Linked DNA regions of Homo sapiens: region 1 is linked to region 2. Evidence: fine-mapped expression QTL. A gene starts in region 2. The other region holds a variant in brackets. All regions are shown on one strand. Distances are between the middles of the regions.

Evidence for each region.
Region 1: its variant is fine-mapped to the expression of PIRAT1 in whole blood (INTERVAL, PIP above 0.99).

The regions. Positions count from the first base shown.
Region 1 is chr2:37,829,088-37,834,468 of GRCh38, forward strand. All of the region lies in intron 2 of PIRAT1 (PU.1 (SPI1) induced regulator of S100A8 and S100A9 alarmin transcription 1), which reads right to left. Among named protein-coding and RNA genes, the nearest start is that of PIRAT1, 44 kb to the right of the region's middle. RefSeq lists an enhancer at 4,400-4,459. The variant G/A (reference allele first, on the strand shown) is at 2,215.
Region 2 is chr2:37,873,479-37,878,859 of GRCh38, forward strand. PIRAT1 (PU.1 (SPI1) induced regulator of S100A8 and S100A9 alarmin transcription 1) reads right to left here and starts at 2,385. Exons shown (of 4, transcript NR_110012.1): 1 at 2,265-2,385.

The DNA of each region.
Region 1 (5,381 bases), 44 kb before region 2:
ACATACCTCTAGTCCCAGCTACATGGGAGGCTAGGGTGGGAGGATCACCTAAGCCCAGGAGGTCAAGGCTGCAGTGAGCTGTGATCACACCACTACACTGCAGCCTGGGTGACAGAGTAAGACTGTTCCTCAAAAAAATAAAAATAAAAATAAAAATTACCTCAGTTCGTGAAAACAGCAAAGATGTGTGGCATGACTAGCTCCATTCCCTGGAATTAGGAAATATCACCACACTTATGATGAATCTTACAAAACTTAAGCCTTCCCACTCAGGGAGGGCCACATAGACATGAGAAAGTAGAGCAGAATGTGGTTGTTTTCCAGGGGAAGCTGGCTTCTAATGAGAAGGGAGGGAGGGAGGGCCTGGGCTTCCTGTGCAGATTCATTTCCCTTGGTTACCAGCAGGTCACTCACCCCACCTCCGTGGGCATTAGCCATGAGGCAAGAAGTAAGAGGAGTTTAGAAAAAAATCCTTGTTTCTGGAAACCAGAGAGGAGGGAGACACGGTTCACTCAATGAGTAGGAACTTCAATGGTTAAATGTGTCTTCTTGTAACAAACATCCATGTAACTATTTGAGGCCAGAATGAATTCTTCCTGGTGTTTCTTTAGGTGATTTCTCCAAGGGAGGCCTGTGGTATGCAGGGGATTTTTACCAAGACCAGCGTTCTCATGAGTCCAGAGGCTCATCTGCCCTTAGAGGATTGGAAGATTTGCATCCGCTTCCACAAGCTGCTAGCCTAATCCTCTAAGGTTCAAATCTGCCAGGGATCCATACCATGAAGGCAGTCCTCCTGAGTTTGCTTTGGAGTCTGACACTTTTCATTATGGACATCAGTGATTGACACCCTGATTGTACTTAGAATCACCCAGAGGGAGCTTTTAAAAAGTATTGGTACCCAGGCCCCTCCTCAAACTGAGAAAACTGAGGACTCTGTGGGTGAGCCTGGACATGGATGGCTTTACCAAGCTCTCCAGATGAGTCTAACGTGCACCCTGGCTTGAGAAGCATGGAGTGGCAGTCACAGAAGCCCAGGTTGGCAGCTGTCTCAGGCAGGAAATGTAGAATGGCAGTTAAAACTGTTAGCCCTGGAGAAGAATCCTGATCCCATTCCTTACTGAGTGTTTGTTAAGTTACTTAAACATTCTTAGTCTCCCCAGGGTGACCAAGGCCATCCGTAAAAGGAAATCCACTCCAGTAAGTGAGTTGAAGCCTTGGTCTTCATCATTTATGATGGTCAACGGAGAAGTTTCCTTTTGTTTGATGCCACCCTTCGTGTCTGTTGCAAATGGCAATGAGCCAGAACTCTGCCATGCAGATGCTCGGGTTATGCCCATGCCAGAGAGTCCAGTGTGGCTCAGGATCAATCAAAACAGAAAGTACCATCCTAAAGTCAGCGTCTGGATTTTCCCCGTCAAAACATTCAACTCCCATGGTATATATATTTTTGCTTATTCAATTCATATTTTGAATTCATATTATGAATTAGTCGAATTTTTAGATATGCTTAGTTGTTGGTCCATGTCACAGCTATCTAGCCTGTAAGGACCATTTCTTCTTGCTCTTATCTTGAGAAAATCACACACTGGTGCTTAGTTAATAAATAGTTCTTGATTATGGAAATAATTATGGCCTTGGAAGAATTCTGTTTATATAAGCAAGAACTCTTAGGTCTTAATCTTGCAACTGAAAGGGATCATAGAGACCCAGGTCTTCAAGTTGAAGGGAAACTTGCCGAGGGCCACACAGGCACTCAGAGGCAGGCCCAGATTTGACTGTTCTCTCTCCAAGTCCATTTTTCTTCCAACTTTATCATGTTGCCTCCCTATACAACCCTCTAAACTACTTCTCTCTCTTTTCTAAATCCATTTTTTTTCTGATTTCTCTTTCTGCCACAAATGTTCCGAATTTATGAAGAAAGAAAATGGAGAAAAGATTTGAGTAGACATTTCTGGTTTCCATGCTTGGATTGCTTCGGAGGATTAGTTTTACTGTTCCAGCTTGTTTCTTTATCAGTTTAAAGGGCAAAACAACTTCCACCCTTTTGAGGCAGCAAGAGGTCAGTCCTCTGCCATCCTCCCCCACGGCCAGGCAGAGCCAACTGCAGCCCATGGGTACCTTCCACCGCCTTCTTCCCTGGGATGGAGTCAGACAGACCTGCAGAGGGGCGACCACTCAGCTTGGGCAGCCAAGGCAATACCTGTCATCACTGTA[G/A]TGGGCTTGAAGCCCAGTGTCCTTCACTGCCAGCCTTGATGGCTTTAGCTGTGAAAACTCTCCTGACAAAGGAGGCTCTCACAGGCTCCAGTCATGGGAGCCCTACAGCCAGGATTTCAGGAAACTAGGGTGGAATGGGCAGAACAAGAGTTTGTCCAACAACTGAACAGGACAGGAGGTTCCTACTGCTTGGAAATCTATTTGTGTGTTCCAGAGATGTGCAGAACAAAGACCTACACATGGTTATTTTGGCAAGAACAGGAAGGTTTAGATTATCCTTTTCCACCCCGTGAAAGTGGCCACCTAAGATGTGAGTGTTGAAGGAACATCTGTTTTAACACTAACAGAGCCTCAGTGAGGGTCTCACCATGGTCTTCACTTCACAGACATAGCACAAGCAATAAGAAAGCTGCAGCTGTCGGATGCACACACAGTTAAAGGCTTTGCCTCTCCTTTTTATCTCAGTGTTTCCAACATGACAGTGAGCACCGCGTGTTCTCCAATGGGCTCTGCTCCTTTCTGCTCCCACCAGCAGCTCTGAAGTATCATGTAAGACCACATGTTGCCTCCTTAAGGTGATTTTTGGAGAGGGAATTTGGGAAATGACAAAATCAAAATATCCAGCATGAGCCTTTGCACATCGTTCATGCATTGGGTGCATGAGATGATAGAATTGGATCTGGAGGCATATGCTATGTGTAGAACAGCTTTCCCCATCTGGAGCCCAGGTGTGCAGGTTCACCCCTGAGTCCCAGACATCGGTATCAGTGAGTAGTGAGAGCAAGACAAATCCATCTCACCTACCCTTGTTCCACAGAAATGATTTTACCCCTTGAGGTACAAGGTCAAGCTCTAATTTTATTTGTAGATCAAGTTTCACAATAATTGAGCATTTGAACATGCTAAGAAAGATGGGATTTTGTAACTCATTGTTGAAAGGCAATGTGGCATAATGGTTAAGAGTTTGCATTCTGAAATTAGAGAAACTAATTCTGAAATTACAAATTTGTTCTCTTTGTGACCTTAGGAAAGTAATGCAATTTGTCCAAACTTCAGTTTCTTCATCTATAAAATAAAGATAATTATAATTCCTACCTAGAAGTATTGGTGTAGTTATGAAGAAGGAGACCACTTGTGAAAAACATAAAATACTACAAGGCCACTCGTGTCACAAAGATGCAATTCACTGGTTACTATCATTACTATCAATTTTAGAGGCACAGACTTCCTTCTAAATAAGACTCCTTTCCAAACACGTACATCTAGAGCCATTCATTCTATCTTCTCCCACTGTTAGAATGTCCTTATCTTAAGCCAAAATCTCACTACCCTTGTTTTCTGGCCTTTTAATTTGTACCTACTTTTTGAAACCGCATGGAAAAACTCAAATCCCTTTTTGTAAAGGCATTGACTGGGCCACTGTTTTGCACAGCTCAAAGGGACACAGTTCACACTGTAATCTGTGTCAATGGCACCCCCTGGTGTCCACCCCACTGGAGAGGTAAATAGGGAGGATAGAAGGGAAGAAGGGAAGGGTTGTAGAGAGGCTGGACATACTCTTTTCCATGAAAATCCCTGGTGAAGTAAGGATCGCACCAGTGTACTACCTTCCCCAAACAAAGCAGCTACAACTCTACCAACACTTCTTCATAGGACATGATCTCACATCAGAGCCCATTGTGCTTTGACCACGTTTTTCTTAAAGTGAGGTGCTCAGAGCTAAGTCAACATTCCAGGTGAGACATGACCAGGGCCCAGGAGAGCAGAATTCAACCTCCTTCATTTTTCTGTATACCATAATTAGGATGCCACTGTGATACAAGACAATCTTAGTACTGAATTCCTAGAGCAATTATTTTCTGAGCAACAGGCTTGGTTTTTAATCATACATTGTCCTATAATATCACTTCACTTGTCATGAATTGTTACCCATTTCACTTTATATAAGTGAACTATATATGTGTGTGTGTGTGTGTGTGTGTTTCTTCATACTGTCTATGTTGGGAGTTCCCTGAAATATATGTTTTTAGACATTTTAATGACTCCTGTTAAATCTAGCACGTTTCTGGGACCATAAAAATGAATCTAATTCGAATATTTAGGGAGAACCAAAGCAAAGGGACAGCATTTATTAAAATTTAAAATGGCCACTGTGGAAATGGAGTCAAGCTATTCTGTGCACACAGTGTTGCTGGGATAAAACACGCTAGAAGAAATGGCGGTAAGTTCTTATTTGGTCAATGAATCATAATTCCCCAAAAGACAAGCATGATGCTTATGGCAGCCCTTAGTAATAATTCTTCATGTGTGGTTTTCTTGCTCATATTTTCTATGTATGCGGTGATTTCCAACTACACTCTGTGGAGCCCGTGGGGTTCTGAACGGATGCTCCCAGGATGTGTGGGAGGGGCAGGAAGAGCAAGAGTGGAGGGCGGGGCTCCTGTCAGCTTTCAGTTTCCCCTAGAGCCGTCAGCCTTTCCCTGTTGTATGTATTGGCCCTCCCTGTAATATTTCCTTTGGGAATAAAAAGTTTAGAAACCATAAGTCAAGTCACACCCTGGTCACCTCAGACTGGCAGGGAGTATGATCACTTTCATGTTTCGTCTCACAAAATGGATTTCTAGGTGAAGTATATTTAAAAAGAAGGTCACCAGGCACAGTGGCTCACGCCTGTAATCCCAGCACTTTGGGAGGCCGAGGCAGGCGGATCATCTGAGGTCAGGAGTTTGAGACCAGCCTGGTCAACATGGCGAAACCCCATCTCTACTAAAAATACGAAAATTAGCTGGGCATGGTGGCGCGTGCCTGTAATCCCAGCTACTCGGGAGGCTGAGGCACCAGAATTGCTTGAACCCGGGAGGCGGAGATTGCAGTGAGCCAAGATCGTGCCAGTGCACTCCAGCCTGGGTGACAAAGCAAGACTCTGTCTCAAAAAAAAAAAAAAAAATTAGGTTAATTTCCACATTTGGCCCTAATGTGGTCAAAACTTCAACAGCTGTGGATTAAAGAGAAAGCGACCACACCATCATCACCATCACCCTCTCTATCCCTGTGAAGCCCCAGACACACACAGTGGAAATGGAATTCAGAGCTAGAGTAAACCCAGGGTCTTGACGGACACTTTCGAAACAGCACTGCAGGTTTGTGATTTCCTTCAGATTTGGAGA
Region 2 (5,381 bases):
CTTTTACCTTAGGGGTCAGGAGAGGGAGCAATCAGGCCAGAAGAGGGACAGGAGCATCAGCCACCTAAAGAAGGAATGGTAGCAACAATGAGACTGTTTAATCTTTCTAATTGCTGACACCTTCAATACAGTATCTGATATTCATTCAGTAGTTATCAAGGGTCACTTCTGTGCAGCCACTGTTCTGAACTCTCGGAATACAGAGGGAAAAAGACAAAGTGCCTGACCTCATCTAGCTTTCATTCTAATGTAGTAGCTAGGCAATAGACACATAAACACGTAAATATATACTAGAAAGCCAGCTAGTCAAGGGCATGCTTATCGTTGTTTTTTGGTTACCCAGAATCTGAACCTCCATCCTATGTTTGAGATTCCCTACCTCATGGAATCTGGTGGATAAGCAGAGCCCATGGTCCATTACATAGAATTTGAAAATGCCTGATAGTGGTTTTATCAGCCTCTCTTGTAGAAGGAGCCAAGGCCTGTGGCCAAGGCTCCACCAGCCAGACACACTGGCCCACAATTTGAGTTAGGAACCAATGACTCAAGGACAAAGAGACTGAGAAAGCCCTCATAGGAGATGGCAGCAGCTGCAGAAAGATGGGGATTCCAAGGGTGCTGGTGACAGCGGGTTCCAGCAGTGTTAGTATCTGGGACGGTAGCATTGGTGACATAACCAGTGGCAGCTGGGGCAGCAGAGATCCCACCAATTCGTGCAATGCGTGCACTCTTCTTGGCTATAAACCACTAAGCCTTCCCAAACATTCCTGGAGCTGTCAAAGTCTACACATAAATCCTTCTTCTACTTAAACCCGCCAGAGTTCCTTGTGCCCTCATCTAAGAGCTGAACACAAGTAGTAACAAGTGCTCAATCAAAAGGAAAGCCAGACGAAGGCATGGAGAGTGATGAGAGGCTACCTTAGGTAGGTGGCCAAACTCAGCCTCTCCATGGATATGGCTTTTAAGTCTCTCCAGAAAGCCCGAGAGCAAGGCCACCTGAAGACCTGAGGGAAAGAACTCCAGAGAGAGGACACAGTGCAAAGGCTGGGCAGTGACAAGCTGGGGGGCTGAGGAATACCAAGAAGGCCAGTGTAGCCTGAGCTGAGACAGAAGCTAAGTCAGAAGGACAAGCCAGGGCCACAGTTGGTGAGGCTGGTTAGATTGTCGTGTGGAGTTTGAGTGTCATGCTGCGTGTGAGGGAAGCCCCAGCTGGTTTTAAGCAAGGTGACACGGTCTGGTAGTTGAAAAGATCACCCCGGCTGCTGTCAGAAGAATAGTCTGTAGCAAGACAGGAGTGGAAGCAGAAAGATCAGAGACTCTTGCAGAGGTTCAGGAGCCAGGTAGTATGGGTCTGATCCCTCTAGGCCGAGGGCGTTTGAGTGGCGGTGGTGGGAAGAAGAAAGATGAGGAGTAGATTTTGAAGGTAGAGCTGAGAAGCCTTGCTGTGTGTTAGATGAAGGGTGTGAAGGAAAGAGACAGTTCGGGACCGAGCCGCTCTCTGAGATGGGGAAGATGAAGAGAAAGGCAAGCTGGTGGGTGGAGAAGTCAGGATCAAGAGTTTGGCTTTAGATCTAGTGAGTGGGAAACACCAATGAGGTGGAGTGGAGACAGAGTCTGCAGGGGGATGTAAGGACCTGGATGAGGTGGGGGCGAGCTGGGCGCTGGAACTAAGTGTGTGGGATTCCTCGGCACGGGGAGGAAATGTACAGCCATGAAGCTCAATATGCTCACTCAGACGAGAGTGTGGTTCGAGAAGGGGGCTCAGGACAGAGCGCTGGGGAACCAGGGATGAAGAGATCACAGCGAGGAAGAGAATCCAGCTAGGGAACTGCAGGGCGGGAGGAAGAACACAGACTACGGCGTCCTGGAAGCCAAGAAAAGAAAACAGGGGCCTTGGCAATGACCCTAGGCACTTCCAGAGGATGCTTGTATCAAGCAGGTAAGGGGACTGGGGCTCCCAGAGGATGGGCCACCCCGTTTCAGTGCATGGCCCGGCGCCTCTTTAGAAGAGGAAGCCCCTGGATTCCAGAACGTGCTGGCTCCACCCAAGGCAGACGGCAGTGAGGCCACACACTATTCCCAGCCCCTTTCTCTCTGAAAAGAGCCCTTTGTAACTTCTTTGAGAAGGAAACACCTCCGTCAGGGGAGGAACATTATTTGCTTCCTGTTAGAACAGACTTTTACTTAGGATCAAGCTCGGTGTCAGCCCCATCCCCACAGGGAGCAATAAGGGAAAGAGGAGGGAGGGGGCCGCAGACACTCACTTGTGGGGGCTGGTTTCGCAGGAACGGCTCCGGAGAGCTTGAAGAGGGGTAGGCTGCAGGCCCACAGCCGCAGTCTCTCTCAGCTAGAAACCCTCCTCCCTCCTCTGCCAGCCTGTCCTCCCCGGGCTCCGTTCGAAAGGCCTGGGAGATAGGGAGAAGGCTGGTCAGCCTGGGCGGTTAGTGGCTGGTTTAACACTTCCTTGCCTGCCAGCCCTTTCCCAGGAAGACTACAGCCAATCATTCATTCATTCAAAAGCTCTTTGCCAAGCACCTACTCTGTGCTAGGTCTGTGCCCAGCATGGGGACACAGTATTAGGCAAAAAAAAAAAAAACAAAAACCAGACATCCCCCATCTGCCCTGAACTTACAGTCTAGTGGGATAAATTAAACAAGGCACGCAAACACCTCTACAGCCACAAATGTGATAAGGCTCTAAGTGAATATCGCACATGACAGTGGCCCTGCTGAAGGCCAGGCAGAGGTTCCTTCTTGAGGAAGGACGTCTCTGAATCTCCAGAAGCCAATAGAATCTGTAGCAGCAGAAGAAAGGGTCAGGTTTCTAGAACTGCCCACTACGACTTTAGAAGCTGACGCATCTCTGTTATGCCGCGGCTGCGATGTTTTAAGTCCCCAAAGCCCAGAGCACATCGTGGAGCATGGAAGTGGTTCACTGAGAAGCTGAATCTAGTCCTGGGGCTGCTGGTGTGGAGGGTGTGTTCCGCTCTTGGGGCAGCAGCAACAGGTGCCGTGAGAGGCTCAGAGCTTTTGAAGCAGAAATGGCAATACTCTACATCTTCAGCAAATATTTGGGAGTCTTTTGTTAAAAGAAGAGCAGAATAAATATCTATGCCTCTTGTAAAACCCAAAGGAAAGCTCTCAGATAGGCTTCTTTAGGGCTATGACTATCTCTGCAGCTTCACTATACTGAGTTAAGTCTGTAGAGCATCTGTAACCCTAGGCATGTGTGTCCACAACCTCCACACGTACACAAGGACACTCCTACAGAGGACAGGCCGTGCGGACAGTTAGGGGAGGACAGTGGAGGCCGCTTCAGTTCACTTCGGTGCTTTGGATTCAAGTGTTTTTCTGTTTCATTTTCTGGGTAGCTGATTATTAAGCTAAACACTCCTTTGATGGTTGAAAATACATTAGTCCCTTTTCTTGCACGAATCTAATTCACCAAAGCCTATTAAAGTGCTTTTGGACCAATGAGGAAATTTAATGCTCAAGTATTTTATTCTGAATTCCAATTTTCCTTGTGTTATGATTTTACCTATAGGTGGTTGGGTTGATTGTATGGTAAAGATGAAAAAAAGCATATTTGGAAAGAACATGACAATTCTCAAGGTGTTTATACTACTTTACTGTATTTGATCCTTGCAACTGCCATGTGAATTAGGCAAGAAATATTTCAGTTTTACAAATGAGAAAACTTCTGTCCTGAGACATTAAGTGATATACTCAAAGGTCATATAATAATTTGTTTTGTTTTTATCTTGACTACCATACTCCTCTATACCACCTTCAGGACTCTGGAAGTCAGATATATGTGAGTTTTTTGTCAACTAAATTCATAGTTGTCTTAATATTCATCCCTTGCTAAAATTAAGGTGCAGAAATAAAATCTGTCTAATAGAGAAATATAAATCCATCTTTTGTCTGGATAATCAAATTTTACTATATTTTGTTTTAATCCTGAGAATGAAATTTTACAAATAGCTCAGGAGGTTTTCCCTAGAGTTCCAAATAAAAGTGTGTGGATCATATACACGTTCTGCTTAATCACATGACGGTTCCAAATTTTTAATTTCAATCCTTCATTACGATGAAAATTTTTGCGTTTTTTTTCCACCAGCTCTTTGTTTTGTTTTTCAATGGCTCAGGAAAGGAGAGGGGTGTGGGAGACTCTGTCTCTTTTGACAATCACCAGCGCCATCTACTGTCAAGAAATAAAATCGTGACTCATTGTTAACGCGTCAATGAACATTAGGGCTTAAAGAGGGAAAGACAATTTTATACCCCAGTACTTACTGATAAATATAAGTTCATGTACACATATTTTTATCTTATATTATTGTATTCTTAAGCAGCCTATAGGGAGAATACAATGAACTTAATATATAATTATTTATGTAATTCTTAAGAGCACTAACTTTGGAAGAGGATAAAAATGGGGTGAATTTCAGCTAAACCACTTAATAGCTACGTGATTTCTCTTACCCTCAGTCTTTTCATCTGCAAAATATGAACAATTATACTTAGAAGGTTGTTTTCTTGATTAAATGACATATGTAAAATTTACCCCAAAGCTAGCAGATCAAGGCAGCTATTGTTATACGACATTTATGGAGCACACGCTGGATATCAGCCTCTGCTGGGGGCTTGCTTCACAGCAATCCTGTGAGCTGGAGAGGCTCTGAGCTAGCAAGTACTGTGTCCAAGATTACACAACTAAATGAGAAGCATTTTTAAGTCCAATTTTCCATCTGATTTCAAAGTTGTTATCGTTTCTGCTATCTCACAGAGCATGGCTATGAATCCCCTTCTGATACATATCTGTGAAGGTTCATTTTAGGCCCACTAGGGAAGATCTGCTTTTCATATATTTATATGGGCTCCATCCTTTGTGGTCTGATGTGTGTAGCTCATTGTAGGGATGTGCCAAGTTTGCCTAACCACGCTATAGTTAAGAAAGTAACTTCAGGAAGACTCAAAGGATTTTATATGCAACCCTGATCATAACCCAAGATGAAAAGGATGATAAACCTTTTCATCTTGGGTTATGATCTACCACCCTCACAGCATTTTATACAGAATTCTCTGATACTGTTACCTACCATGTGATCGATAGTTTTGTTTTTTCTTTTCTTTTCTTTCTTTCTTTTTTCTTTTTTTTTTTTTTTTTAACAAAGCTGTCTCTCTTTCTGGAATAGAATTCCTCAAGGGCACAACTCATGCTTGATAAATCAATGAATAGATGAATGAAAAGTGATTACGTATTATAATCCCAGTGTGAAGTGATGAGGCCTTCACAAGGCCTTTGAAGATAAGGACCGTAAATTCTCCCTACACCAGCACGTGGTGATTATCCATCTGAGATTTACTGACTTCAGTTGA